Linked DNA regions of Homo sapiens. The protein of the gene in region 4 interacts with the protein of the main gene of each other region in a pairwise test. Each region holds a gene or a part of one and is shown on either strand. Other genes may lie near its edges.

What was found.
Region 1: the proteins of RIN3 (region 4) and SYMPK interact in a two-hybrid assay, tested with the Homo sapiens proteins (one large-scale study listed by BioGRID and IntAct).
Region 2: the proteins of RIN3 (region 4) and ASB3 interact in a two-hybrid assay, tested with the Homo sapiens proteins (one large-scale study listed by BioGRID).
Region 3: the proteins of RIN3 (region 4) and SPATA12 interact in a two-hybrid assay, tested with the Homo sapiens proteins (one large-scale study listed by BioGRID and IntAct).
Region 5: the proteins of RIN3 (region 4) and TM4SF19 interact in a two-hybrid assay, tested with the Homo sapiens proteins (one large-scale study listed by BioGRID and IntAct).

What each region holds. Positions count from the first base shown.
Region 1 is NC_000019.10:45,856,137-45,863,228, forward strand, and holds the start of SYMPK (symplekin), read right to left. Parts: upstream 7,012-7,092; 5' UTR 6,922-7,011; intron 5,892-6,921; exon of another isoform or gene 5,764-5,891; intron 1-5,763. UniProt on the Homo sapiens protein: Scaffold protein that functions as a component of a multimolecular complex involved in histone mRNA 3'-end processing. Specific component of the tight junction (TJ) plaque, but might not be an exclusively junctional component. May have a house-keeping rule.
Region 2 is NC_000002.12:53,774,885-53,781,976, forward strand, and holds part of ASB3 (ankyrin repeat and SOCS box protein 3), read right to left. Parts: intron 313-7,092; exon of another isoform or gene 1-312. UniProt on the Homo sapiens protein: Probable substrate-recognition component of a SCF-like ECS (Elongin-Cullin-SOCS-box protein) E3 ubiquitin-protein ligase complex which mediates the ubiquitination and subsequent proteasomal degradation of target proteins. Recognizes TNFRSF1B.
Region 3 is NC_000003.12:57,061,525-57,068,616, forward strand, and holds part of SPATA12 (spermatogenesis-associated protein 12), read left to right. Parts: intron 1-7,092.
Region 4 is NC_000014.9:92,684,781-92,687,137, reverse strand, and holds part of RIN3 (ras and Rab interactor 3), read right to left. Parts: intron 2,152-2,357; coding exon 1,988-2,151; intron 1-1,987. UniProt on the Homo sapiens protein: Ras effector protein that functions as a guanine nucleotide exchange (GEF) for RAB5B and RAB31, by exchanging bound GDP for free GTP. Required for normal RAB31 function.
Region 5 is NC_000003.12:196,320,373-196,326,635, forward strand, and holds the end of TM4SF19 (transmembrane 4 L6 family member 19), read right to left. Parts: intron 5,199-6,263; exon of another isoform or gene 4,069-5,198; coding exon 3,899-4,068; exon of another isoform or gene 3,626-3,898; coding exon 3,445-3,625; coding exon of another isoform or gene 3,342-3,444; 3' UTR 3,175-3,341; downstream 1-3,174. UniProt on the Homo sapiens protein: Negatively regulates vacuolar (H+)-ATPase (V-ATPase) activity by interacting with members of V-ATPase V0 complex and hence inhibiting V1-V0 complex assembly. Required for multinucleation during osteoclast differentiation.

The DNA.
Region 1 (7,092 bases), on a different chromosome or scaffold from region 4:
TGAGGTTAGGAGTTTGAGACCAGCCTGGCCAACATGGTGAAACCCCATCTCTAGTAAAAATACAACAGTTAGCTGAGCCTATAATCCCAGCTACTCAGGAGGCTGAGGCAGAAGAATCGCTTGAACCCAGGAGGCGGAGGTTGCAGTGAGCCGAGATCATGCCACTGCACTCCAGTCTGGGACATAAAGACAGACTCCATCTCAAAAAAAAAAGGTGAATCTCAGTATATTATCCTGAAAAGAGGTCCCTGACAGCCTGTTGCATCAGAGGACAATACATGCAGTTCAAGCCATTTTTGTCAAGTATGTGTTTATGTATACGCAGAATGACCTGAGGCAAGACATTTAACTTCTCTGGCTCTCAGTTTCCTCTTCTAGGAAACAGGGATAGTAACAGGGCTTACCTCCCAAGACTATTTTGAGGATTAAATGAGTTAGTATATACAGTAAACATTGGCTAAGTATACTATTATTTTTATGTACATGGGAAAAGATCTGAAGGCTACTGCATAAACTGCTAACAACAATTATGATAATTAATAATAATTTGGCCAGCTCACGCCTGTAATCCCAGGATTTTGGGAGGCTAAGGTGGGAGGATCAATTGAGCTCAGGAGGTGGAGGATGCAGTGAGCTGTGATCCCTACCACTGCATTCCAGCCTGCGGACAGAGCAACACCCTGTCTCAGAAACAAACAGGCCAGGTGCAGTGGCTCACATCTGTAATCCCAGCACCTTGGGAGGCTGAGGTAGGCAGAACACCTGAGGTCAGGAGTTCGAGACCAGACTGGCCAACATGGAGAAACACTGTTCCCTACTAAAAACATACAAATTAGACAGGCATGGTGGCGCATACCTATAATCCCACCTACTTGGGAGGCTGAGGTGGGAGAATCACTTGAACCTGGGAGGCAGAGGCTGCAGTGAGCTGAGATCACGCCACTGCACTCCAGCCTGGACGAGAATGAGACTGTCTTAAAAACAAAACAAGGCTGGGTGCGGTGGCTCACACGTGTAATCCCAGCACTTTGGGAGGCCAAGGCGGACGGATCACGGAGGTCAGGAGATCGAGACCATCCTGGCTAACAAGGTGAAACCCCGTCTCTTCTAAAAATACAAAAAAATATGCCGGGCATGGTGGCGGGCGCCTGTATTCCCAGCTACTCGGGAGGCTGAGGCAGGAGAATGGCATGAACCCGGGAAGCGGAACTTGCAGTGAGCTGAGATCACAACACTGTACTCGAGCCTGGGCGACAGAGTGAGACTCTGTCTCAAAAAAAAAAAAAAAAAAAAAAAAACACACACTAAACAAACAAACATGCCAAAAAAACAATAATCTGAGGACGGTGAAAATGATACTTTTTTCTTTTTTTGAGATGGAGTCTTGCACTGTCGCCCAGGCTGGAGTGCAGTGGCGTGATCGTGGCTCACTGCAAGCTCCGCCTCCTGGGTTCACACCATTCTCCTGCCTCAGCCTCCCCAGTAGCTGGGACTACAGGCGCCTGCCACCACGCCCGGCTAATTTTTTGTATTTTTAGTAGAGACGGGGTTTCACCATGTTAGCCAGGATGGTCTCGATCTCCTGACCTCGTGATCCGCCCGCCTTGGCCTCCCAAAGTGCTGGGATTACAGGCGTGAGCCACCGCAACCAGCCGAAAATACTTTTTTTTTTTTTTTTTTAGATGGAATTTCACTCTTGTTTCCCAGGCTGGAGTGTAATGGCACAATCTCAGCTCACCGCAACCTCCACCCTCCCAGGTTCAAGCAATTCTCCTGCCTCATCTCCCAAGTAGCTGGGATTACAGGTATGTGCCACCACATCCAGCTAATTTTTGTATTTTTAGTAGAGACGAAGTTTTACCATGTTGGTCAGGCTGGTCTCGAACTCCTGACCTCAGGTGATCTGCCCACCTTGGCCTCCCAAATTGCTGGGATTACAGGTGTGAGCCACAGCGCCCAGCCGAAAATGACACGTTTTTTAAAAGGAACTACCCAATAGCTATTCACAGTAGTATCACATGATAGGGGTCTCCTCAATGAATGACGAGCCACAGCCTCCTCCCTAGTTTCCCTGCTGCCTGTCACCCCCTATCTTGCTCAGGGTCAGGGCCAATGTCCCCATCAAGGCCTACAAGATTTTATGGCATCTGGCCTGTTCTTCCTCTGACTGCCTCTCCCCCTGGGCTCTTTGCTCCACCCACTCTGGCCTCCTCGCTGTCCTGTGAACATGCCCAACATGCCCCTTCCTCAAAGACTTTGTGCCTCTCTTCCGTCTGCCTGGAATATTCCTCCTCCTAGATATCAGCACAACTCCTTCCCTCTTCATTTCCTTCAGGTCTCCACTCACATGTCTCTGCAGTAAGGTCTTCCCTGACGACTATGTTTCTTTTTTTTTTGAGACGGAGTTTCCCTCTTATTGCCCAGGCTGGAGTGCAATGGCGTGATCTCAGCTCACAGCAACCTCTGCCTCCCAAGTTCAAGCGATTCTCCTGCCTCAGCCTCCCTAGTAGCTGGGATTACAGGCATGTGCCACCACGCCTGGCTAATTTTGTATTTTTAGTAGAGACGGGGTTTCTCCATGTTGGTCAGGCTGATCTCGAACTCCCGACCTCAGGTGATTCGCCCGCCTTGGCCTCCCAAAGTGCTGGGATTACAGGCATGAGCCACCGCGCCCGGCCGACGACCATATTTCAAATTTTAACTTCCTCTCGATCCCCATCTGTGTTGCTTTTTCTCCATAGCATTTATCATCATCACACACTACATATTTATAAGTTCCACGAGGACAGTGATTTATTTATTTGAAATCATTTTTTGGTAGAAGCAGAGTTTCGCCATGTTGCCCAGGCTGGTCTTGAACTCCTGCACTCAAGCAATCCACCCTCCTTGGCCTCCCAAAGTGCTTGGGATCACAAGTCTCAGCCATCGCCCCCGGCCTAGAACAGGGATTTTGTTCCTTCACTTTTTATATTCCCAGCACGGAAGAGTGCTTGGCACCTAGCAGGAGCTCAATAAACATCTGCTGAATGAGTGAACACTACTGCCAAACGGCCTCCCCAATCACTGGGTTCAGTATTCCTGCCCTTTCACTCTTGAATCCTAATAGCTATACTTGTTCTACTTTTTCCCCCTTTCTCACTACTGCACTTGACAAGTCTTTAAAAAAAAAAAAAAAAAAGGGCATGGTGTGGTGGCTCACTCCTGTAATCCCAGCACTTTGGGAGGCCAAAGTGGACAGATCACTTGAGGCCAGGAGTTCAAGACCAGCCTGGCCAACATGGCAAAACCCAGTCTCTGCTAAAAATACAAAAAAATTACTTGGGCATGGAGATGGATGCCTGTAATCCCAGCTACTTGGGAGGCTGAGGCATGAGAATTACCTGAGCCTGGGAGGCAGACGTTGCAGCGAGCCGAGATTGCGCCACTGCACTCCAGCCTGGATGACAGAGCAAGACTCTGTCTCAAAAATAAAACAAAACAAAAACAAAGAAAGGAAAGAAAACAAAAATAGGACGGGTATAGTGGCTCACAATTGTAAACCCAGCATTTTGGTAGGTCTAGGTGGGAGGATGGCTTGAGGCCAGGAGTTCAGGACTAGCCTAGGCCTAAAAACTAAAAAAGAAGGCCAGGTGCAGGGGTTCATGCCTATAATCCCAACATTTTGGGAGGCTGAAGCAGGAAGAGTACTTGAGGCCAGGAGTTTGAAACCAGCCTGGGCAACACAGCGACACACCATCTCTAGACATATGCACAATTAGCTGGGCATCGATATCATGCCACTGCTCTCCAGCCTGGGAGACACGGTAAGACTCCATCTAAAAAAAAAAAAAAAAAAAAAAAAAAATTAGCCAGGCATGGTGCCATGAACCTTTAGTCCCAGCTACTCTGGAGGCTAAGGTGGGAGGATTGTTTGAGCCTGGTTGTAGTGAAGTATGATTGGGCCACCGTAGTCCAACCTGGGCAACAGAGCATGAACCTGATGAACCTGTTTCCAAAAAAAAAAAAGAAAAAATAATCAGTTAATATATATTGAACACGGCCGGGCACGGTGGCTCAAGCCTATAATGCCAGCACTTTGGGAGGCCAAGGCGGGTGGATCACCCGAGGTTAGCAGTTTGAGACCAGTCTGGCCAACATGGTGAAACCTCATCTCTACTAAAAATACAAAAAAATTAGCCAGGCATGGTGGCAGGCACATGTAATCCTAGCTACTCGGGAGGCTGAGGCAGGAGAATCGCTTGAATTTGGGAGGAGGAGGTTGCAGTGAGCCGAGGTCACATCATTGCACTCCAGCGTGGGCAACAAGAGTGAAACTGCGTTTCAAATTAAAAAAAAAAAGAAAAAAAACCCACACACACAGAGAGAGAAAGAGAAAGAGAGAGAGAGAACACTTAATATGTGCTAAGCACAATTCTAAGATATACATATTAACTCATTTAAACCTCAGACACCAAGGTTTAAATGAATTAATATGTATATATTAGAATTAATATACATGAGTTAGGTTTACATTTTTTGTTTTTTTGAGACAGGGTGTCACTCTGTTGCCCAAGCTGGAGTGCAGTGCCGCAATCTCAGCTCACCGCAATCTCTGCCTCCCGGGCTCAGGCGATCCTCCTACCTCATTTTCCCAAGTAGCTGAGACTACAGGCGAATCCCCATTTAATTTTTGTACTTTCTGTAGAGAAGGGTTTCGCCATGTTGCCCAGGCTGGGAGTTAGTATTTTTAATTTTCATTTTACAGATGAGGAAACTGAAGACCAGGGAGGTAAAGTGACCTGACCAAAGGCATATAGCTTGTAAGAGGCAGAGTCAGCAGCATGGCTGCATATCTTCCTTACCACTATGCTACAGTACTGTTTATCTGAAAGGAATTGTTTTTTACCCCCAGGTCTGTTTACGTAAGCCAAGGATCCTGGCCACCAGACAACCGGCATGGCATGCCGTCCCCAGTCAAAACATAAAAAAAACAGGCCGGGCATGGTGGCTCACACCTGTAATCCCAACACCACTGCACTCCAGCCTGGGCGACAGAATGAGACTCTGCCTCAAAAAATAAAATAAAATAAAATAAAACCCCATAATAAACATTTCCACTTTTTTCATGATAATACATTCAGATCAACCAAAATATTTTACCCTGTTTCATTCTTCTTCTGCTTTTTGGTTTATGCTTTCAGTTTTGTTTTGTTCTTTTTTAAACACACATACACAAAATTCTCCTGCAGGAGCTAGATTTTATGCAAAAAAAGGAAAAAAAATGAAAATAAAAAAACCCATATATACATATTTCCCTTTCATTTACAAAAAGAGCATACACAGGGCCGGGAGCGGTGACTCACGCCTGTAATCCCAGCACTTCGGGAGGCGGAGGCAGGTGGATCACGAGGTCAGGAGTTCAAGACCAGCCTGACCAACATGGTGAAACCCCATCTCTACTAAAAATACAAAAATTAGCCAGGCGTGGTGGTGTGCCTGTAATCCCAGCTACCTGGGAGGCTGAGGCAGGCGAATTGCTTGAACCTGGAAGGCAGAGGTTGCAGTGAGCCGAGATCACGCCACTGCACTCCAGCCTGGGTGACAGAGTGAGACTCTGTCTCAAAAAAAAAAAAAAGGAGCCTACACAGGCCGAGTTTGGTGGCTCAGGCCTGTAATCCCTGCACTTTGGAAGGCTGAGGTGGGCAGATCACTTGAGGTCAGGAGTTCAAGACCAGCCTGGCCAACACAGAGAAACCCCGTCTCTACTAAAAATATAAAAATTACCTGGGTGTGGTGGGGCACGTTTGTAATCCCAGCTACTCGAGAGGCTGGGGTGGGAGAATCACTTGAACCAGGGAGGTGGAGGTTGCAGTGAACTGGGATCGTGCCAGCCTGGGCGACAGAGTGAGACCCTGTCTCAAAAAAAAAAAAAAAGAAAAAGCATATACAATAAACACCAACCTCCACTTCACTTGTTTTCCCTTAATATATGTTGGAGGCCACTATATCAGTGTATAGAGATTTTCATCATTTCCTTTTATCTACCTCATTCCTTTTTAGAGTTGCATAGTATTTTTTATGTGGATGTATTATAGTTTCTTTCAGCCAATCTTCTTATTTAAGAACATTTGGGATGCGTGTAGCCTTTTGCTATGATGAACAGTATCACTGTTTCCCCTTCCCTCTCGATGTACTCGTTAAGAAGTGGTACCCTGCCCCACTGCTACCTAGGAATCTGATGACTACCCTGTTTCCCCAAACTGGCTCTAGGAGTATCTTTTATTCCTTCAACGAACATTAGCTGGGCGTCTCCGGCGTGATTGGCGCTGTGCTGAGAACACAGTGGCGACAGAGACAAACCTAGTCCCTACCTTCATGGAACACACGGTCATAGACATCATAAAACAGCACACAGATAAGAGTCGGATAACAAATTAGACCACACGTGACATGAAGGAACACGGACCGACAAAAGCATTTAACAGGCGGATTTCTGGATGGAGGGCAGGGAAGGAGGGCTTCGCAGAGGAAGTGACGTTGGTGCCGAGACCCGAAGGATGAAATGGGAGTTAGCCAAGCCGAATGGGTAAAAGGATGTTGCAGGCAGAAGGGACAGCCTGTGCAAAATCCCCGAAGCGGGAAAGCGCATGGCAAGTTTAAGGAACCGAAAGGCCAGGGCGGCTGTTAGAGGTGGGGGAAAAAGCAAAGAGGCCGAGTCGAAGCAAGCGAGGTCTGCGGGGCGGTGGCGCCCGGGGGGCCACGTTGGAACTTTGCCTCGAGGGCACTAGGGAGCCAAGGAAGGGTCCTGAGCAAGGGAAGAAACATGGGTCGCGAAAGCCACTGTTCCCCTCTCCCCACGGCGATGCCCTCCCCGCCCGAGCCCCTGCTTCTTTAGGAGCCTCCTCCTTTCGTCTCCGGGCCCAAACGCCGCCTCCCGCTCACCGCAGCTCTGGCCTCCGTTCCCCTCGCGCCCCCTCAGCAGTGCCTCTTCCTACACTCCGCCGCCGCCGCCGCCGCCATCTTCCGTTCGTCGCCGGGAACGGTGCGCACGCGCCACACACCCAGGGCCGCCGGGAAATGGAGTCCAGAGCACAGCCCGACCCCGCCCATGCC
Region 2 (7,092 bases), on a different chromosome or scaffold from region 4:
ATAAGGTTATGCCTTCAATATATTCCTATACAATTCTGTAACCATGGTTTAAAATACACAAGCTTAAAATAACATGCTTAGAAATACACAATAATATGAACAGTATTTCAGCCTTAATTGTGAATTTCCTTGTTATTCAAGTATTAAATGAAATCTTTTGAGTTTTTAGCCAAAAATTGGCATTTTTAAAATACGAAAATTTCCTTGGAATTATAATGTACTGTACCTCTTCTTTTTTAAATAAAGGCATTTTACTATATGGAAAATAACTCACTAAAGCATAAATTACATTATACAAATCATGATCACTAATGATGTAGTCTGTCATTCACTTTGTATTAATCTTATACCAAAACTGAAAAAGATGGGCTGATACTACAAATTAATGGCACATATAATGAAAATTTAGTTTTTAAAACAGCTTTTGGAATTCTTTGTCTGTCACTATCTCAATTTGTGTGTGTGTGTGTGTATATACATATATATACATATAAAATTTTTTTTTTCTTTGCAGCCTGCGTCTGGCCATCCCACAGGCTGGAAAGTGTAACCTCTGGCAGAAGCCAAGAACAGGCACCTCCTGGAATTATAATTTTGTTTTGTTTTTTGAGACGGAGTATCGCTCTGTTGCCTAGGCTGGAGTGCAGTGGTGCCAACCTCAGCTCACTGCAGCCTTCACCTCCCAGGTTCAAGGAATTCTCCTGCCTCAGCCTCCCGCGTAGCTGGGATTACAGGCATGTGCCACCACGCCCGGCTAATTTTTGTATTTTTAGTAGAGACGGGGTTTCACCATGTTGGCCAAGCTGGTCTCGATCTCCTGACCTCAGGTGATCCACCAGCCTCAGCCTCCCAAAGTGCTAGGATTACAGGTGTGAGCCACCATGCCCGGCCTATAATTTTTTATTTGTACAAATTTATGGGCTACAAGTGCCATTTTGTTACCTGCATAGATTGTATTTTTTTAAGAAGTGGCATTACCTGATTATTTGTACGTAACTTTTTTCTTTATTTTGTCACCTAAAGAAGAGTATCAATTGGGTGTATGCTGCTACTCAACTAGGAAACAAGTTATTAACTCACATAGAATTAACTTTGATTCAAACCATTCAGGTTATTCCTGATTATAGGTTATTTCTTTCTCAAGAGGACATATAATCTCTCTAGAATCTTTCACCATAAGAACTTCAGTATAAAACTAAACACAATATACTTACTAAAAGCTCCTTAAACTCAGGCATGACTAATAATTAGTACAGAAGTTTTTCACATAAAGCTGTCCTACATGTCCTTTTCATGTTTTCCTATTTATTAACATCTTAGTAATTTACTCAGCTACATATCTACTTTAAATATCTTCCAACATTTTAAATATTAGTTTTCCAGACGGCATTTCACTTGTCCTGTAAAACAGAAAGGGTGATAAATTTATTAAATTTCTAATTTACCATCCCTGGTTCTTTCTTTCCAGGCAATTAGATGATAAATGTGCTTTAAAATTCTCTTCATCACATCACGCTAAAAGTTACCTATCAAATGTTCCTGTTATGCCTATCTTTTTTCAGCAAAAATACTGACTGTATTGTCTATTAATTTATTCAGCTTTTGGCAATCTATTTTTATGGATTTCTAAAACCTTGAATTTGGCCAGTGTAGTGGCTCACACCTGTCATCATAGTACTCTGGAGTGCTGTGATGGGATGCTGTGAAGGGAGGATCACTTCAGGTTAGGAGCTAGAGACCAGCCAGAGCAACAGAAGAGCACCATCTCTATAAAAAATTTAAAAATTAGCCAGGTGTAGTGGCATGCACCTGTAGGCCCAGCTACTCAGGAAGCTGAGGCAGAACTATTGCCTGAACCCAGGAGTTCGAGGCTGCAGTGAGCCATGATCACACCACTGCACTCCAGGCTGGGCAACAGAGCAAGACCCTGTCTCAAAAAACTAAAATAAAACCTTGAATTCACTCTAAGCATATATTACAGACTCAAAGATTTTGTAATCCTGTGGCTACTATGTTGAAGAATTTTAACTCTTCCAAAGACAATTAAAATACCAAAATTTTTCTTCTGTATGTCAAATTTATATGATGAAAATTAGCTTTATTGGATTTCAGGGACTTTTCATTCCTATGGTTCATTTTACCTTTCTAAAATACTATATTTCAGTTTCATTTTCTTGGTTGTTTTACTTAATTGTACTGAGCCTCCTTCTCTTTATAAATGGTTCGCCCACACATGTACACACACTGTAACTGGAAAAACCACCACTAATCCTACAGTTTCTTGTGTTCTTCCAGCTTTCTTATTCTTCACAGAAATTTTTTAACTACACAGTGCTTCACTTCCTTATCAACTCGTCTTAATCCCTTTCCAATTCAACTTTACTCTGCCATACCACCCAATCATTATAGTATCAAGTCTCCAATGACCACTTCCTCACTGAACCCAAAGATTGCAATTTTCATGCTTCTCTGGTGCATCAGACACTAGTGATCAAGCATCCCATGTCACTAAAGCCAAAGACAAAAACATTTCATTGTGTTTCCAGTTACAACTCTTACACTATTCTTTATCAAATACACAAACTCATCAAATCCTAGGCTTCAATTTTACTTGGATAGCTTCCAATCTCCAGCCTACTCTCTCAACCTCTTCATATGTCTGTTACATGAAGGCATCTCCAGTTGTGCTACACAAGCATGGAAACTTATTGTACTAAAACCAGTACTCATCTCCTTTCCCAACCAGAAAATCTGGTCCCACATTACCTCCCTGTACATAATACACATTAAACGTTGAACAATACTTAGTCCAGGAGAAAAATAAACAGGTTTATGATACTCATATCAATTTATAAGCTTTTGGAGGAAATAGATGGTATTTTCACAATATACACAAAATGTGTTTGTGCCTTTTTATTAAATTTTACCCTTTGTTTTACTAAAAACAATATAACATTTTTTAAAAAGTGTAAGCAATCTTGGCCAGGTGTGGTAGCTAACGCCTGTAATCCCAGCACTTTGGGAGACCAAGGCGGGTGGATCGCCTGAAGTCAGGAGTTCGAGACCTGCCTGACCAATATGGTGAAACCCCGTCTCTACCAAAAATACAAAAAAATTAGCCAGGTGTGGTGGCGGGCACCTGTAGTCCCAGCTACTTGGGAGGCTAAGCCAGGAGAATTGCTTGAACCCAGGAGGCAGAGGTTGCAGTGAGCCAAGATGGCGCCACTGCACTCCAGCCTGCGCAACAGAGCAGGATTCTTGTCTCAAAAAAAAAAAAAAAAAAAAAAAGAGTGTAAGCAATCTTTAATTGGAGGCCATTTGGCTAAGATGGTCCTAGGACTCTGGGTTCCTATGTAAGCAAACTGAAGCCCAATGTAAACAGTGAAACAAAACTTAATCTTTGCTTTTTATTTTTTAATTATAAACTGACTATAGTTATATATTTATGAGGTACAAAGTGATGATTTATGAATACAATGTGGAATAATTAAATCTAGTTAACATATCCATGACCTCAAATTTTTTTTGTAGTGAAAACTTTTAAAAGTTACTCTTAGCAAGTATAAAGTACATTATTAGTCACTATATTCACCATACTGTGCAACATATCTCAAAGAAAAAAATTCCTCCCCTTTGACTATCATCTCCCCATTCCCCCATGCCTTCCCTCCAACCCTGGTAACCACTGTTCTACTCTCTGCTTCTTTTAGTTCAACGGTTTTAGATTAAATATATAAGTAAGCACATATGTTGTTTGTCTGCTTGTACTTGGCTTATCTCATTTAGCTTAATGTTCTCCAATCCATCCATGTCGTCACAAATGACAAAGTTTCTTTCATTTTTAAGGCTGAATAGTATTCCACTACGTATGTACACCAGATTTTTCTTTATCCATTCATCTGTCTAAGGACCCTTAGGTTGATTCCGTATCTTGGCTATTGTGATTAATGCTGCAATGAACATGGGAGTGCAGATATCTCTTCAACATACTGATTTCCAATCTTTTAGGTAAATACCCAGAAGTTGGATTGCTGGATCATATGGTAATTCTATTTTTAGTTTTTTGAGGAACTGCCACTGTTTTCCATAACGGTTGTACTAATTTACATTGCCATTAACAGTGTACAGAGGTTCCCCTTTCTCCACATGCCTTGCCAACACTTATCTTTCATCTGTTTGATAGTAGCCATTCTGACACATATTGGGGTGATATCTCATAGTGGTTTTAATTTGCATTTCCCTGATGATTAGTAATGTTGAACATTTTTTCATGTATCTGTTGGCCATTTGTATGTCTTCTTTTGAGAAATGTCTATACAGGTTCCTTGCCCATTTTTTAACTGGATTATTTGTATTCTTTCTATAGAGTTATTTGAGTTCCTTTTATATTCTGAATTTTAATCCCTTATCTCATGTATGGCTTGCAAATATTTCCTCCCAATCCATAGGATGTCACAACTTAATTTTAATCAGAAACCAACAACTATTCTCTAACAAGCAACTTTCTGCCAGATTGTACCCAAATAAGACAAACAAGTAGCTATGACAATCAAGTAATTTTTTTTTTTTCAAGACAGGGTCTCGCTCTGTTGCCCAGGCTGGAGTGCAGTGGCACAATCACAACTCACTGCAGCCTCAACCTCCCAGGCTCAAGCAATCCTCCCACCTCAGCCTCCCAAGTAGCTGGGACTACTGGCATGTGCCACCATGCCTGGCTAATTTTTGCATTTTTTGTAGAGATGGAGTTTCACCATGTTGCCCAGGCTGGTCTTGAACTCCTGAGCTCAAGTGATCCACCTACCTCAGCCTCCCAAAATGATGGGATTACAGGTATGAGCCACTATGCCCAGTCCAATCAAGTAATTTCTTTACTTCGCTTCCACATTCAGCCTGCAAAGGTCTGCCGCTTACTCTGTTAAAACAAGAGCTCCCTGAACTACTTCTAATTTTGGGTGCTGCCAAATTCATTAATCCTTTAACACAAAAACAAATTCTGATAAATTGATTTCGTCTAAAGTTTTTCTTTTAACAAAGTCAAAATGAAGTTACCAAGGAAGCCCTGAAGGCTTTTTGTGATAAGGCTTAAAAGATTACATGATAGTAAAAGGTTACATGCTGAAAGATTCTCAACTAAAGAGCCTTATCATACATCAAGAGCCAGAGTTTCTTACATATTCTTCTTGTTTCCAATCTCTTTTCCTCTTTCCAATACACGCTCTACTGTGCACTCAGAATTACTTACCTAAAATATGAAACTGAGGTCAGTAATCAAAATGTCTTCCTGCTGCATATAAAATAAATTCAAATCCTTTAATCTGGCATTCAACTACTTACCATCTGGTCAATCTGGTATCAGTGTATTTGTCAAATTTCACTTCCCACTGACGTACTCCCCTGCCCCTCATGCTCCAATCACACCACCCTCCTCATTCTTTAAGACCTAGCTCAAATGAGCGAACTAATGTTATGTGGCAAGCAATGACTATGCACTGAGACCACCAAAATAAATAAGATAGTCCCCGGCTATCAAGAATCATATTTGGTGGAGAAACACACAAGCAAACAAATCTATGTTATTTAATATAAAAGATGTGATATAAAATACAAGCAGAGGGGTGGGTATGGTGCTCGTGCCTGTAATCTCAGCAATTTGGGAGGCCAAAGCAAGGGGATCACTTGAAGTCAGTAGTTTGAGACCAGCCTGGGCAATATAGTGAGACCATGTCTCTACAAAAATGTAAAAATTAGCTGGGCATAGTGGCACATGTCTGCAGTCCTAGCCACTCTGGAGGATAAAGCAGAAGGATCTCTTGAGCCCAGAAGTTCAAGGCTGCAGTGAGCTATCATAAGGCCCCTACACTTCAGCCTGAACAACACAGCAATACTCTGTCTCTAAAACTAATAACAAATAAATAAAATACAACCAGAATACAGAAAGGCAAATTACCAATTCAAAGTAGCAGAATCAGAGAAAGCTTCATAGAAAAAACAAAAAGGTGTTCATGTGTCAGAGAATAATGGTTAACACTTATGTAGCACTAACTATATGCTAGATTCTATTCCAAGTGCTTTATGTATATTAACTCATTTAATCCTTATTTTCTACGATGATGAAAATTGCTTAAGTAAAACAAATGTAGTATCATTTATTGAACATTTACAACATGCCAGGAACTGTGCTAAGCACTGAACAGGAACAAAATGAAATTAAGGCCTACAATTTTAAAAAGAACAAAAAAGGAAGCCGGGCAAGTGGCTCACACCTGTAATCCCAGCACTTTGGGAGGCTTGAGGGGGCAAATCACTTGAGCCCAGGAGTTCAAGACCAGCCTGGGCAACATGGCAAAACCCTATCTCTTACAAAAAATACAAAAAAAATTAGCCAGGCGTGGTGGTGCACACCTGTAGTTCCAGCTACTGAGAAGGCTGAGGTGGGAGGATCACTTTAGCCCAGGAGGTTGAGGCTACAATGAGCCAAAACCATGCCATTGCACTCTAGTCTAGGCAACAAAGTGAGACTCTGTCTCCAAAAAAAAAAAAAAAAGTGAGAGATGGTAGTTATCTCATTTTGTACCTCCATTGGTAGGGCTTAACCCCTTTGAGATTCTTTCCATTTTTTTTTTCTTTTGAGACAGAGTTTCACTCTTGTTGCCCAGTCTGGAGTACAATGGCGCCATCTTGGCTCACCACAATGTCTGCCTCCCAGGTTCAAGTGATTCTCCTGCTTCAGCCTCCAGAGTAGCTGAGATTACAGGCATGAGCCACCACGCCTGTCTAATTTTCTATTTTCAGGAGAGACAGGGTTTCTCCAGGTTGGTCAGGCTGGTCTTGAATTCCCAACCTCAGGTGATCCGCCTGCCTCAGCCTCCCAAAGTGCTGGGATTACAGGCGTGAGCCACCACGCCCGGCGGAGATTCTTTTTTAATTAGGACAAAATAAAATAGGACTTTTTAAAACAGGATTTAAAAGATTCACCTAATTACTTATCTCCTACAGCCATAATTTTCTTTTTAAACAACAGTATGCCTTGCCCAATTTTTTCAACAGCATTGATTTATTCAACAAGTACTGGCTGGGTGCCATGGCTCACAT
Region 3 (7,092 bases), on a different chromosome or scaffold from region 4:
TATCCATTCATCTGTCAATAGACATTTGTATTATTTTTACCTTTTGGCTATTGTGAATAACGCTGCTGGGAACATGGGAATGCAAGTATCTGTTTGGATCTCTGCTTTCATTTCTTTGGGTATATACCCAGATTTGGAATTGCTGGACTATATGATACCTCTATGTTTAACTCCTGTTACACTTTTAGGATTCTGGCAGCCACCACAGCTAACTCTCAGTGAGCAGTCTCTCATCCTGTGTTACTCACCACTCTAAGAATTTTTATTAACTCATTTAGTCCTGAGGTGTGGTATAATTATTTTCATCCCCATTTTACAGACAAAGAACCTGAGGTGAGAGAGGTCCTCCTTCTCAGATGGCAGCATCAGTATCTGAGCCCGCATAGGTTCAGATTTAAATTGTTTCTCCGGTTGTGACAAAAACAAGGTGCTGCTCTGCCTACAAGCATTTTCTGCCCTGAATAATGCCTTTGGGAGGGTTTCCACATCTTTCCTTGCTCTGGACTAAGGATCAAGTAAAAAAAGAGAGTGGGGCAGGGATGCTCCACTGGATTGGATCTGTCTAGACTCACTGCTAGCAGTGAGAAATCCAACTCCATCTAGATGGGTGAGAAGGGGGATTTGTAGGAAGATCCCTGGAGCAGCTCAGTCATGTGACTAGATCCAAAGGCAATGTGCCCAACCCTCCCCTCGCAGCTCCACACTCTGGGCCTGTCCTCACTGCTCTAGCGCTGGGTGAGTGCCTTCAAGCACCTTCTCTGCCACTTCTGAGTGGGTTAGGATGACCCTGAGGAAGCCCACAGCCTGGCAAGGGTGGCTTGTGTCTAGCTCCAGACCGGCTACCACAGCCGAGGGGAGGGGAACCATGATAGGCCCAGCCAGGACCACAGCCCCCACTCGGGCTCAGGCTAGGCTCAGGAGCACGGCGGCGGGGGCGGGGGGTGCTCAGGAGCATGGGGAAGCCTTTCAGAGAAGAGGGAAGGAAGCAGGGCAAGTGCCCAGCACAGATGCTGCATAATCTACAATAGCAAAAGATTGGAAGCTGCCCAGTAGTACTGAACAAAACAAGGTTAAATAAAGCTGCTCTAGCCACTCAGCAAAACACTATGTAGCTGTTTAACAAGCAGGAATATCTGGTGGGAATGACAGGACTCGCTGTTTCTCTGTCTACACACATGCACACACACACACACACAACAAACATGCACACACACATACATACACATATGTAATAATTCACAGGTAAGAAAAATATAGGCAAGAATTATATCATAATAGAAGAATCAAATGGCTTTTAATCTGTTTACCAAACTTTTCTTTACGGGTTCAACAAATTATTGTCTGTACCAGGCAAGGCACTGGGGACATGACAGGGAACACAATAGAAGAAAAATCCCTGCCCTCATGGAATTTACATTCTAGTGGGGGAGGCAGATGACAAGATAAATAAGCAAAATACACCTTATATTGGATAACGATAGTGTAAGGAGAAAAAGCAATGAAGGCAAAGGGGAAGTTGGGATGCAGTGGTAACGGTTTAGACACGATGACCAGGGAAGGCTGAAGGAAATGAGGGACCAAGCTCTGCAGATATTGGGAGAGGTGCATTTTGGGCAGCGGGAATAGCAGGTGCAAAGGCCCTGAGGTGCCCACGCAGGGAACAGCATGGAGGTGATGTGGCTAGAGTGCGGTTATGAGGGGGAAGGGCAAACTAAGAGAGGAGTCAGAGAGGAAATGCAGCCAGATCACATGGGGCCTTGCAGCCAGCCACCCTAAAGGCTTTGGCTTTGTTGCAGTGAAATGAGAGCTATTTGAGGGCTTTGAGCAGAGAAGTAGCCAACCCTTCAGAAGGTTCCCTCTGACTCTGAGTTGAGAACAAGCTGAAAGGAGGTAAAGGCAGAGGCTTGGAGGCCGCAGTCATTCAGGTGAGAGGGGAGAATGACCTGGAGGGTGGTAGGAGCGGGAGGGGAGCAGTGGCCACTCTACAAGTAGAGTCTTTTGACAAGTGAAGAGAAGAGAGATACAAAAGTCAAAGATGACGCCCCAGGCTTTGGGCCTGAGCAACCAGGAGGTTGGGGTGCTCCTTAACAGAGATGTGGGAAGAGGATCAGGAGAGTCGGGCATCCTAGAAGCCAGGTGAGACAAGGCTTCGAGGAAGAGAAAGTGACCAACTCCATCACACGCTGCTGGTAGTCAGGAAGGATGGCAACAGAGAACAGGCCATTGGGATGAGCAACCAGGCACTCACTGTAGACCTTGGTAAGAGATATCTGGGGAGAGGGGAGTGGAAGCCAAGCCTGCCTGAAATGAGGGGCTCAAAAGAGAATGGGATAGCAGCATCATTCACAATAGACAAAAGGTGGAAGCAACTCAGTGTCCATGACAGATGAATGGTAGAACAAAATGTGGCAAATGCATAGAATTGAATAATATTCTGCCTTAAAAAGGAGGGAAATTCCATGCCAGCTGTGCTGGCTCACGCCTGTAATCCCAGCACTTTGGGAGGCCCAGGGAGGGGGACTGCCTGAGCTCAGGGGCTCGAGACCAGCCTGGGCAACATGGCAAAACCCTGTCTCTACCAAAAATACAAAAAAATTAATTGGGCATAGTGGTGCATGCCTGTAGTCCCAGCTAACCCGGAAGCTGAGGTCAGAGGATTGCTTGAGCCTGGGGGGTAGAGGTTGCAGTGAGCTGAGATTGTGCCACTGCAGCAATCAGTGACAGAGTGAGGCCCCGTCTCAAAAAACAAAACAGAAAACCAAAAACCAAGAAGGAAATTCTTTCTTTTTTTTTTCTTTCTTTTTTTTTCTTTTTTTGGAGACAGGGTTTCCCTCTGTTATCCAGGCTGGGATGCAGCGGCAAGATCACGGCTCACTGCAGCCTCAACTTCCCTGACTCAAGTGATCCTCCCATCTCAGCCCCCAAGTAGCTGAGATTACAGGTGCATGCCACCACGCCCAGCAAATTGCTGTATTTTTTGTAGACAGGGTATCACCATGTTGCCAAGGCTGGTTTTGAACCCCTGGGCTCAACATCCGCCTCCTCGGTGCTGGGATTACAGGCATGAGCCACCATACCCAGCCCAAAGGAAGGAAATTCTGACACATGTTACAACATGGGTGAACCTTGAGCACATTATGCTGAGTGAAATAAGCCAGTCACAAAAGGACAAATATGGCATGATTCCACTTATATGAGGTATCTAGAACAGTCAAATTCAGAGACAGAAAGTAGAATGCTGGTCTCCAGGGACTAGGGGCAGGGGGGAATGGGAGTTGCTGTTTAATGGATACAGTGTTTCAGTGTCACAAGATGAAAAGCTCTGCAGATTGGTTGCACAATAATATCAGTATACGCAACACTACTGACCTGAAAACTTAAAAATAGTCAACACAGTAAATTTTACGTTATGTGTGTTTTATCACAATTTTTTGAGACACAATAGAAGGCAAAAAATTAGTAAGTCCAGAAAATTATTTCAAAAAGTTTTGCTCTAAACTGAAGAGAAATGGGTGTATAACTGTAGGGAGAAGTAGGGTGGAGAGAGGGTTCTGCTGTTTTTAAGTTGGGAGAAATAACTGCATGTTTATTTGCTGATGGGACCAATCCAGTAGGCCATGGTCTTAAATGTTGAAATTACTTGCAAAAGGCCGGGCGCAGTGGCTCACGCCTCACGCCTGTAATCCCAGCACTTCGGGAGGCCGAGGCGGGCAGATAACTTGAGGTCAGGAGTTCGACACCAGCCTGGCCAACATGGTGAAACCCTATCTCTACGAAAAATACAAAATTAGCCGGGTGTGATGGTGTGCACCTGTAGTCCCAGCTACTAAGGAGGATGAGGCAGGAGAATCACTTGAGCCCAGGAGGCAGAGGTTGCAGTAAGCTGAGATTATGTCACTGCACTCCAGCCTGGGCAACAGAGCAGGACTCCATCACAAAACAAAAAAAAAAGAAATTACTTGCAAAAGAAAAACTGTATTTTAGGATGATAAATATTCTGGAACTAGTGGTGATATCTGCACTACCGTATGCATGTGCTAAAAAACAGACTGGGTACTTGAAAAGGGTCAATTTTGTGGTATGTTAATTATACCTCAATAAAAATAAAAGCTATAATAAATGTTTAATGTCTTCCAAATACCATGTTCTCATACAGGCTGAGTTCCCACCCAGGCAGCCCCAGATACCTACAGTTTCTGTGGCCAGTGACCCACCACAGCTAGGTGGTAGCCTGCGGAACAGGAGAGGCAAGGTCATCCTCATTACGGCTGAGTCACAAATGCTGCATTAGCACACACAGCCCCCTACAGCTAGATCTACGGAGCATGCACCAATTTGTTGCAGATAAATGGCACCTTTTACTTAGGCCCATGAACTCTCAGGTCTTCAGTCTTAAAATGAAATCTAAGAGCTGGGCACAGTAATTCACATCTGTAATCCCAGCTACTCAGGAGGCTGAGGCAGGAGGATCACTTGAGGCCAGGAGGGCAACACAGTGAGACTCTGTCTCCAAAACAAAAAAAAAAAACCCTAAAATGTAAGAAAAAATCCTTTCAATCAGAACAAGAAACTCTGCACCCCCACTGCCAATCTGCCCACCCATCTGGTCCACCTGTAATTGCAAGAGAACAAGGGAGGGACTTATTTTGCAGTCAATCAAAGGGGAGGGAATTCTTTCCGAAATGTTCTCCTATCTGTACCAACAGCACACTTCCACTTCCAACCATTACACTTTTCCTTTCTTTCTTTTTTTTTTTTTCTGAAACAGAGTCTGACTCTGTCACCCAGGTACAGTGGCATGATCTTGGCTCACCGCAACCTCCGCCTCCCAGGTTCAAGCGATTCACCTGCCTCAGCCTCCCAAGTAGCTGGGATTGCAGGCACCCGCCACCATGCCTGGCTTAATTTTTGTATTTTTAGTAGAGACGGGGTTTCACCATGTTGGCTAGGCTGGTCTTGAACTCCTGACCTCAAGTGATCCATCCGCCTCGGCCTCCCAAAGTGCTGGGACTATTGGCGTGAGCCACCGCGCCCAGGCTTTTGCCTTTTTCCTTTCTTCTGAACAACCTCAAACAGTATTTTACCCACTGTGATGATTAATTTTATGTGTCAACTTGGCTAGACCATGGTAACCAGCTATTTGGTCAAACATTCTAGACATTTCTGTGAAGGTATTTTTTAGATGAGATTAACATTTAAATCAGTGGACTTAGAGTAAAGCAGATTATTCTCCATGATGTGGTGGGCTTTATCCAATCAGCTATAAGCCTTAATAGAAAAAGACCGACCTCCCAGAGCAGGAAGAATTCTACCCAGAGAGCCTTTGGGCTCACTGCAACTCTTCCCTGGGTCTCCGGCCTGCCAGTCTACCTTGCTGATTTTTGACTCACCTGGCCTCCACAATCACATGAGCCAATTCCTAAAAATCAACCTCTCAATAGATAGATGAGCGATTGATTGACACACATCCTGTTGGTTCTGTTTCTCTCCAAACCCTAATACACACCCAAAATAAGTGATTTTCCAATAGAAATTGTCTGTAAGGACCTGTACTTGCATGAAATTTCAAGTCACCAGATAAATGAATAAAAATATATTTTTTAAAAACCACAAAATATGGCAACCCAGAAAGAATAACATTTGTCGGCCAGGCGCGGTGGCTCACGCCTGTAATCCCAGTACTTTGGGAGGCCAAGGCGGGTGGATCACAAGGTCAGGAGATCGAGACTATCCTGGCTAACACGGTGAAACCCTGTCTCTTCTAAAAATACAAAAACAAAATTAGCCGGGCGTGGTGGCGGGCGCCTGTACTCCCAGTTACTCGGGAGGCTGAGGCGGGAGAATGGCGTGAACCCAGGAGGCAGAGCTTATAGTGAGCCAAGATTGCGCCACTGCACTCCAGCCTGGGTGACAGCAAGACTCTGTCTCAAAATAATAATAATAATAATAATAATAATAATAATAATATTTGTCTATATACTGATCAAAGCTATCATAGTAGATATATTTGTTTTCAAATGCAACTTTAGGGTGGGTGCAGTGGCTCACACCTGTAATCCCAGCACACTGGGAGGCTGAGGCCAGAAAATCACATGAGGCCAGGAGTTTGAGACCAGCCTGGGTAATACAGAGAGACCCAGTCTCTACAAAAAATTTAAAAAATTAGCCGGCGTGAGACCAGGCACGGTGGCTCATGCCTGTAATCCCAGCACTTTGAGAGGCCGAGGCGGGCGGATCATGAGGTCAGGAGATCGAGACCATTGGCTAACACGGTGAAACCCCGTCTCTACTAAAAAAAAAAAACAAAACAAAAAAATTAGCCAGGCAAAGTGGCGGGCTCCTGTGGTCCCAGCTACTCAGAAGGCTGAGGTAGGAGAATGGCGTGAACCTGGGAGGCAGAGCTTGCAGTGAGCCAAGATCACACCACTGCACTCCAGCCTGGGCGACAGAGCAAGACTCCGTCTCAAAAAAAACAAAAACAAACAAACAACAACAAAAAATTAGCCGGTGTGGTGGCATGCACCTGTAGTCCCAGTTACTCTGGAGGCCAAGGCAAGAGGATCACTTGAGCCCAGAGGACACTAGACACGCATAGGGTAACTATTGTTTCACCAAATAATTCAGATATGCGCGCACACACACATACACACACACACACACACACACCAGGTTACCAGGTTGCAGTCTATGTTTTACAATAGGTCACAGTCAAAAACATGGGAGAAGCCACCATACTCCACCACACAATAAATGCTTAATAAAATTTGGTAGCATCATCATTCTTATCTCACTCTAAAAGGTAATACGTTCATTTTCTTCATTAGCATTTATTATCACAATAAAATAGAGCTTCTAACACATTTATCAATGCTGCCACTCACTGCAGTGCTGTTTAAGAGTCATTGCACCTCCCTAAATTAACTTGCCAATTCTCTCGCCTCAAAAGGACTCAGGCAATCATTTAAATAATTTCTGACTCACAAAGCTGGCCAAGGATTAGCGAGGCCCTGCCCAGCCCAGAACACATGAAATGTGAGTGATTTGTTAAGAAAACCATTTGAGTTTGCAAGACTGCACAGGGCTTTTATAAAA
Region 4 (2,357 bases):
GGCCCGGAGCGGCCTCGCCTTCCCCGGGGCTCAGGGCTGCAGGCAGAGAGGCTGCGCGCGGGGCTGCCCCCTTGTGGCCGGATTGGGAACAGCAGGCCTGCGCGGGAAGCGGCTGAGGATCCCGGCTCGGCGGAGACCGTGATGGCAACTGGTGGCTAGGGCTTAGGCGAGGCCGGGCTCCTGTCAAGAGCTTCACGGGGACCGCCCATTTCTTCCAGGAGGGGAAAAGCCCGGCCCACTCCCTCCGTCTTAGTGGCTGCCTCAGGGCTCCTTGTCCTCCATTAGGCCTCCCAGGGCACTATCCACCTGCTAGTGACTGTCCAGCTCTGGGCTTCCCCTCCCCAGGGAAGGGTGCCCACCCCCCAAGGCATGGTGTGCGGAGGAGGCACTGGGAGGGGGCAGAGGGTGGTGCCCTCCCCAGATCCCAGATGTGGTGCTGAGGGGACCCCCCTCCGAAGCTTCCGTCTCCCAAACAGTGGGTGGTCCGTTTCATCCATACTCTGCCTGGCTCAGCATCAGGAACCCCTAAGGTAGAAGCAGGAAGTACGGGATGCCTGGGCCAGGCTTGGACCAAGAGTGTCCATGTCCCTACAGTCTGTGGGAGTCCGGGGTGTTGGGAGGGGATGGGAACAGAGGTGTGCTGGAGCTGGCTCACACCCGCCAGGGAGAGCCGACTGCATACACTTCTTTCCAACTCCACATTCAGTGATGCCAAGTTGAAGTTGGCCATGGAGGACTCACACCATGGAAATGGACAGAAGCTAAAATCAGAGCTTTTGTTTTCTCCCCAGAGAGTCAGTTATTAAATTGATTAGCCATAGTCAGCCTGTGTGGGCAGGAAAACTGAGTCCCAGAGTGGGGCAGGGATTGCTGAGGGTCACACAGCAAGCTAGTACAGGGCTGGGGCCAGAACTCAAGCCTCCTGTCTCCCAGGCCTGGGCTCTGCTTATTATAGATGCACCATCTTGAAAGCCAGGAGTGTGGCTCAGGACTGGTCTGCTCTGGGTGTCAGAGGAGTGAGTCTGCATAGCTGCTCACAGCTCTGGATGTGCCTGGCTCACTAGTCCAACTCTCACCCTTTTTTACACACCCAGTCCTGCTCTGTCCCAGGCCCTGGGCTTGGCGCCCCTGAGGCATGTGAACCATGGGCTGTGCCCTCCCAGAGGTGACAGCTTCATATGCAGAGGATGATAGGATGTGATATGCACTGTAAAAGGGGAGGCCGCAGGAAGCCCAGAGGAGGGCACCCCACCCAGCCTGTGTGAAACGGTGTGTGTGTGTATCAGGGAAGGCTTCTCAGAGGAGGGGCTGTTGGAGAAACTGAGTCGTCTTAAAGGATGGGCAGTGACAGCCAGTGAAGAAGGGGAGATTGACCAGTGAGGGCAGCGGTTGAGCAGCCAGTGAACTGGGCTGGGCATGTTTGGGGAACTGGGGGCAGCTGGATTTGATGCAGCCTGGGGGTGGGTGGGGTGATGGAGTTGGGGAGGGGCGGGACTGGTTTGAATACTGAGTCTGTATAGAGAGAGGTATGGGGAGGGGTGGGCCACTGGGTTGGTGGGGGTTACGCAGACCCTTGGCAGCTGCTGCATTTGTCCAGGGACTAAGGAGCAAGGCTGTAGATGAGCCTGTGGGCTCCTTAAAGCAGGGACTGGGATGACAAGTCCCCATCTCCAGCCCCTGCAGGGTGCTGGGTCCTAGGAGGGGCTAAGGAATGATGGGTGTGTCTCATTCCTCCTGCACCCTTCCTGCTTGCCCAGGGAGAACACCAATGCCTGCTGATATGTTTCTAGACGCACCCAAGTCCTGGACACACACTGGCAGCAGGGGCTGGGGGCCCTTCCTCTGGTGTGGGGAGTCTCACTGCTCCCCTAAGGCAGGGCTGGGCGGCTGGAGCAGCCAGGTGATGTCACGGCTCCTTAGCCAGCAGGCAGCAGGGATGGTGTCTGGGACATGGCCCCACCGGGCCCCTCCCGCTCTCAGGCCTCACCTGTACGGAGGAGCGGGAGGCCCGGGCCTTGTTGAGAGTACGCCGGCGCTCCCAGCGGTGGATGGAGTCCTGCACCTCCACACTCAGCTGCCGGGTCACCGTGATCTTGTCGTAGCTCTTGATGTGCTCCAGGGCCCCGTAGGTGGTGGTCAGATAGTAGGAACCTGCGTGGACAAGGGTGTGGAATCTGAGCCAGGACCGCCTCCGCCCACCAGAGGCAAGGAGCTTGGCCTGCCCCACCCACCTCCTCCAAGCCCCGCCCACCACCTCTGCTTGAGGCACATCTGCAAACACCTGCTTCAACAGCTGAGCTCAACCCCACGCCCACCCTCCAGCCTCAGAAAGTTTCCTAGAGTCCAGCCCTGAGCTG
Region 5 (6,263 bases), on a different chromosome or scaffold from region 4:
CCACCCTGGCAGGCCTGCTAGGCCAGCAGCCCTGGAGAGGAAAGGGTGAGGTGGTGTTTGAAGGGACCTGCCTCCTACGAGCTCTGCTGGTTGGACTGTCGGATGACAGAACCGTGCCTCTGAGCCTGGGAGAGGGAGGCACCCCTGTGTTCTGGAAGCCCCCAGTGCTTCAGCAACTCCTCACTGAGGCAGAATAGTGGAGGAATCAAGCTGGGATCCAGGGGACTGAGGAGGGGATAGAGCAGCACCTGGGCCCCACATTCCCTTCCAACAGAGCCTGGGGTGCTGTGTTTCCGGGAGGGTTTTTTTTGTTTTTTGTTTTCCCGAGACAGAATCTCGCTCTGACCCCCAGCCTGGAGTGCAGTGGCATGATCTCGGCTCACTGCAACCTCCGCCTCTCGGGTTCAAGCAATTCTCCTGCCTCAGCCTCCCGAGTAGCTGGGATTACAGGTGCACACCACCACACCTGGCTAATTTTTGTATTTTTTATAGAGACGGGGTTTCACCATGTTGGCTAGGCTGGTCGTGAACTTCTGACCTCATGATCTGCCTGCCTCAGACTCCTAAAGTGCTGGGATTACAGGTGTGAGCCACTGCACCCGGCCTCTTTTTTTTTTTTTTTTTTTTTTTTTGTGAGACAGAGTCTCTGTCCCCCAGGCTGGAGTTCAGTGGTGCAATCTCGGCTCACTGCAACCTCTGTCTCCTGGTTTCAAGCAATTCTCCTGCTTCAGCCTCTGAATAGCTGGGATTACCGACATGCACCACCACGCCCATATAATTTTTGTATTTTTTGTAGAGCTGAAGTTTCACTATGTTGGCCAGGCTGGTCTCAAACTCCTGACTTCTGGTGATCCACCCACCGTGGCCTCCCAAAGTGCTGGGATTGCAGGTGTGAGCCACCGTGCCCGGCCAGAGCCTGGGGTTCTCAAACTCGTTTCTGGGGACCGCCCACCACTTTTCTTGCCAGTGCCCATCTTCCAGGTTCCTCCCAGGCTGCTTCTGCCTGCCTTGTCCTCTTCCTGCCTGTCACACCACACTCTCCCACCAGCATCTTCCTCATTCCGCTCTGACTCTCCTCACCACCCAGCCCGACCTGACTGAAAACCCCGCAGTGGGAGAGCAGGAGGCCCCTGCTTCTAGGTGCCGTGTGAGAAGCAGCTGTGAGGTCGGGTTGGGTGGCTCACGCCTGTAATCCCAGCACTTTGGGAGGCCGAGGTGGGCGGGTCACAAGGTCAGGAGTTCAAGACCAGCCTGGCCAATATGGTGAAAACCCATCTCTACTAAAAGTACAAAAAAAATAGCCAGGTGTGGTGGCGGGTGCCTGTAATCCCAGCCACTCAGGAGGCTGAAGCAGGAGAATCGCTTGAACTTGGGAGGCAGAGGGTGCAGTGAGCCGAGATCATGCCACTGCACTCCAGCCTGGGCAACAGAGCGAGACTCCATAAAAAAGAAAAAGAGATTTAATTGGCTCACAGTTCTGCAGGGGTTACAGGAAGCATAGCACCCACATCACTCAGCTTCTGGGGAGGCCTCAGAGAGCTTTTACTCATGGCAGCAGGTGAAGAGGGAGCAGGCGAGTCACATAGTGAGAGCAGGAGCAGGCGAGAGAGAGGCCAGAGGTGCCACACGCTTCTAAATGACCAGATCTCGCGGGAACCCACTATCACAAAGACAGCTCTGAGCCGTGAGGGATCCGCCTCATGATCCACACACCTTCTGCCAGGCCCCACCTCTAGCACTGGGGATCACAATTCAACATGAGATTTGGGTGAGGACAGATATCCAAACTGTGTGGACAGAGGTGATGCTCCTCTACTTGTTGAACTCTTGAACACTAGTGAAGAGAATGCTGGTGTATTAGTCTGCCAGGCTGCTGTTGCAGAATACCATGAACTGGGCACTTAAGCAACTGAAATAGATTTTCTCACAGTGCTGGAGGCTAGAAGTCCAAGATCCAGGTGCCAGCAGGTTTGGTATCTCCTGAGGCCTCGCCCCTGCGCTTGCAGACAGCCGCCTTCTCACTGGGTCCTTACAGGGCCTTTTTCTTTGAGCCAGTGTAGAGAGCTCTGTTCTTTCTTCCTCTTTTTATAAGCACACCAGTCCTATTTAATTAGGGTCCCACCCTATGGCCTCATTTAATCATTTGTTGTTGTGTTTTTTTTTTTTGAGACGAGGTCTCACTGTGTTGCCCAGGTTAGTCTCAAACCCCTGGTCACAAGTGATCTTCCCACATTGGCCTCCCAAAGTGCTCAGATTACAGGTGTGAGCCATTGCGCCCAGTCTCATTTAACCTTAATTACTAATTTAAAGGTGCCATCATGGCCAGGCGCGGTGGCTCACACCTGTAATCCCAGCACTTTTGGAGGCCAAGGTGGGCGGATCACTTGCAGCCAGGAGTTCGAGACCAGCCTGGCCAACATGGTGAAACCCCCGTCTCTACTAAAAATACAAAAATTAGCTGGGTGTGGTGGCACATGCCTGTAATCCCAGCTACTCAGGAGGCTGAGGCAGGAGAATCACTTGAACCTGGGAGGTGGAGGTTGCAGTGAGCCGAGATCACGCCACTGCACTCCAGCCTGGGTGACAGAGCGAGACTGTCTCAAAAAAAAAAAAAAAAAGTGCCACCACCAAAGACTGTCATATTGGGGGTTAGGGCTTCAACCTACAGATTTGGAGGAAACACTATTTAGTCCACAATAACTGGAGAAGTTGAATTTAGAAGATGGGGGTTGGGGCCAGGCACAGTGACTCATGCCTGTAATCCAGCGCTTTGGGAGACCAAGGTGGGAGGATCACTTGAGGTCAGGAGTTCAAGACCAGACTGGGCAATATAGCGAGACTCCCTCTCTACAGAAAATTTAAAAATTAGCCAGGTGTAGTGGTGTGTGCCTGTAGTCCCAGCTACTCGGAGGCTAAGGCAGGAGGATCGCTTGAGTGCATGGGTTGTAGGTTACAGTAAGCTATGATTGTGCCACTGTACTCCAGACAGGGGAACAGAGCAAGACCCTGTCTCAGCAACAACAAAACAACAGGGAGATAGGGGGTCAGGTGCTGACTTCACCTTAACTTCACTGTGTGCTTTTACAGCAAGCCTGTTACCCTCTGTGAGCCTCAACTTCTCTATGTGTAACAAATGGCCAACTTTATGGGATTGTCAAGAAGCTGAAATGAGACCCTGGCTGGAGGATATTTTATGGACTATAAATTCCTAAACAATTATAATAACTTAGTTATTTATCCTATCCATGGATCACCTGGAAGTTTACAATGTGATTTAAAATGCATTCTATCATTCCACCGACCTGCAGTGAATTTTGTTGTCATTATTACTCCAGGGATACCTAAAGGGGAAGTTTGTTTATAATTCGTACCCACTCCTTGTAGAAAGGATTCAAGACAGCCGATGATGAAAACACCCATGCTTGCAAGTGAAGGTTCTGCCTGTCACTTCTCGCAGAGGCTGCAGAAAAGGCCCAGGAGGCTGTTGATGACATGAACGACCACCAGGAGAAGCTGGAGCAGGCTGATGCACAGAAGGGCGGAGAAGAGGGACACGTGCCAGACAACAGCTGCAGAGGGCTCCAGGCAGACGGAGTTCCAGAGCGAACGGTCATACAGATAATTCCTATCCCAAAAAATAAGGAGACCAGGGGTCAGGCGATAAGTAAGGAAAGCCAAACAGGCAACCCCAGTAGAAAACTGGGGTCTCCCCTGACCGGGTCATGGGACTGGGCTCATGAGGGTGACCGTTACTGCTCCATTTGCAATTTTCTGAGTATCAGAGGAGCAAGATGCTAGGATGTGTGACCCAAAGGAGCTTGTAGTTCGTCTGTGTGTCTTTTTGTCTCTCTCTCTCTCTCTGTCTGAAAAGACCAAGCCCAAGCCTCCACCCATTTACCTACTATGCAGGTCTTTGAATGGGTAACCATATTTCCAAGCTTGTGTCTGATTGAAGGATGAAACATCAAACATGCAAAAAGGACCATCTTTCAGAGCAACTCCAGAAGTGACAAAGCAAATCAGGGCTCCAAGTAAAGCCAGGCCACCTGACAACAGAGCAGTAAGCACCTGCGGAGGGAGGAGAAACACTGAGCTAAGACGGGGTCGCAGCTGGGGAGCCTGCGGAGGGAGGAGAAACGCTGAGCTAAGACGGGGTCGCAGCTGGGGAGTCTGTGGGGCGGTCTGCACAGGTCTGACTTCTCTGGTCTCAGTGTTCTTCCGTCCTGTCATGGGGGAGAATTCTGTCCATGGCACCCCCTTTGAAGCATAACCCATGGTGGGGAGGCCGTGAGGGGTTTCTAGGAGAGAAAGGACCAAGAAGCAGAATCGCAGGCCCCGGATCTCCCTGACCGTGAGTTCGCCTGAGCTGCTCAGCAGCTTGGCATCACAAACCTTTTGCACATTACAGCCATTCAGCCTCTGAGCTAAAGAAGAAGCTACCACAGGCCCACCACTGACTCTTCTAAGGAAAAGCTGCATTTTCAAAAGTTCCAGGTTCCCAACTCTGATTCTTCTCTATTTCAAATCAAGGATAAAAAAAAGGAAGGGAGGGAAGGAAGGAAAGAAAGAAGCAGGAAAGAAGGGAAGGAGAGAAGTGGGAGGGAGGGAAAGAAGGGAGAGAAACAGCGAGAGAGAAGCTGCAGCCAAGCTCTGAAATGACTCCACTTCTGTCGCTGTGTTTCTCCAGCTGAGAGCTTTCTTGGCCATCAGTCTGTGCTCCCACTGCCCTCCCAGAAAATAACTGGGTTTCCTTCCTTGACAGGTTTCTAGCCTGCTTCTACATTGGCTTCTTTCTCGTTCCTTCCTTCCTTCCCTTCCTTCCTTCTTTCTCTCTCTCTCTTTCTTTTTGAGACAGAGTCTCACTCTGTCGCCCAGGCTGGAGTGCAGTGGCACGATCTCAGCTCACTGCAACCTCTGCCTCTGAGTTCAAGCGATTCTCCTGCCTCAGCCTCCCAAGTAGCTGGGACTACAAGCATGCGCCACCACACCCAGCTAATTTTTGTATTTTTAGTAGAAATGGGGTTTCACTGTGTTGGTCATGCCGGTCTCAATCTCCTGACCTTGTGATCCACCTGCTTCAGCCTCCCAAAGTGCTGGGATTACAGGCATGAGCCACCGTGCCCGGCCCATATTGGATTCTTTCTTAGGGTTCTAGATTTTTTTCTCCCTCCCCCAAAAATGCCTATTTTAAAAATGTGAATAACACCTACATAGCGTTTTTCTGCAGAGTCATGGAGTCATTCTCCCACTGAGGTCAAGCTGGTTTGGAGTTGGGGAGGGATCAGACAAAGGTGCATAGTAAGTTTTGACTCTGAGTTAAAGGAGTCAAGATGAATCAGTAAGCCTAGGGCAGTGGTTCCCAAAATGGGGTCCCTGCCCAGCCGCATCACATCACCTGAGAACCTGTTAGAAATGCAAAACTTCCCCGCCATCCTGAATCAGAAACTCTGGGGAGGGAGCCCAGCAATCCGTGTTCCGGCAAAAGCCCTCCAGGTGATTCTCATGCACATTCAAGTGTCAGAACTACGTGCCACGGGGAAAACCAGAATGAGAACAGACAGTGAATGAAATGTGCAAGTGTTTATTTATTTATCTATGTACTTATTTATTTATTTATTTTGAAACGGAGTCTCGCTCTGTCGCCCAGGCTGGAGTGCAGTGGCGCCATCTCGGCTCACTGCAAGCTCCGCCTCCCGGGTTCAAGAGATTTTCCTGCCTCAGCCTCCTGAGTTGCTGGGATTACAGGCGCCCACCACCACGCCCAGCTAATTTTTGTATTTTTGGTAGAGACGGGGTTTCACCATGTTGGCCAGGCTGGTCTCAAACTCCTGACCTCAGGTGATCCGCCCATCTTGGCCTCCCAAAGTGCTGGGATTACAGGCGTGAGCCACCGCGCCTGGCCTATATTTGATTTTTTAACATGTAACTGAGTCAGTGGGCTTCCCAACATGTGGGCTGCAGATATCAGAGCAGGCTGTGGAGTTACCATAAGGCCACAGATTCATGTCTGAGAACGAGTGTGTGTGTGTGTGTGTGTGTGTGTTTGTTACACACACATATACTGAGATCTTTCAAGTTTATACAGTTGCTGCTGTAATTAATAAGGTAGAAATTTATTCTGGGCCTCAGTTTATCTGTAAAATGGAGGGGTTAGATTAGAATCTAGTGATTAGATGATCTCTGGAAAACTTTCCTGTTCTAAGAAAATATTAGTTAAAATAACTAGGAAAATTTCCATCAATGACACATGATTACAGTGTCAT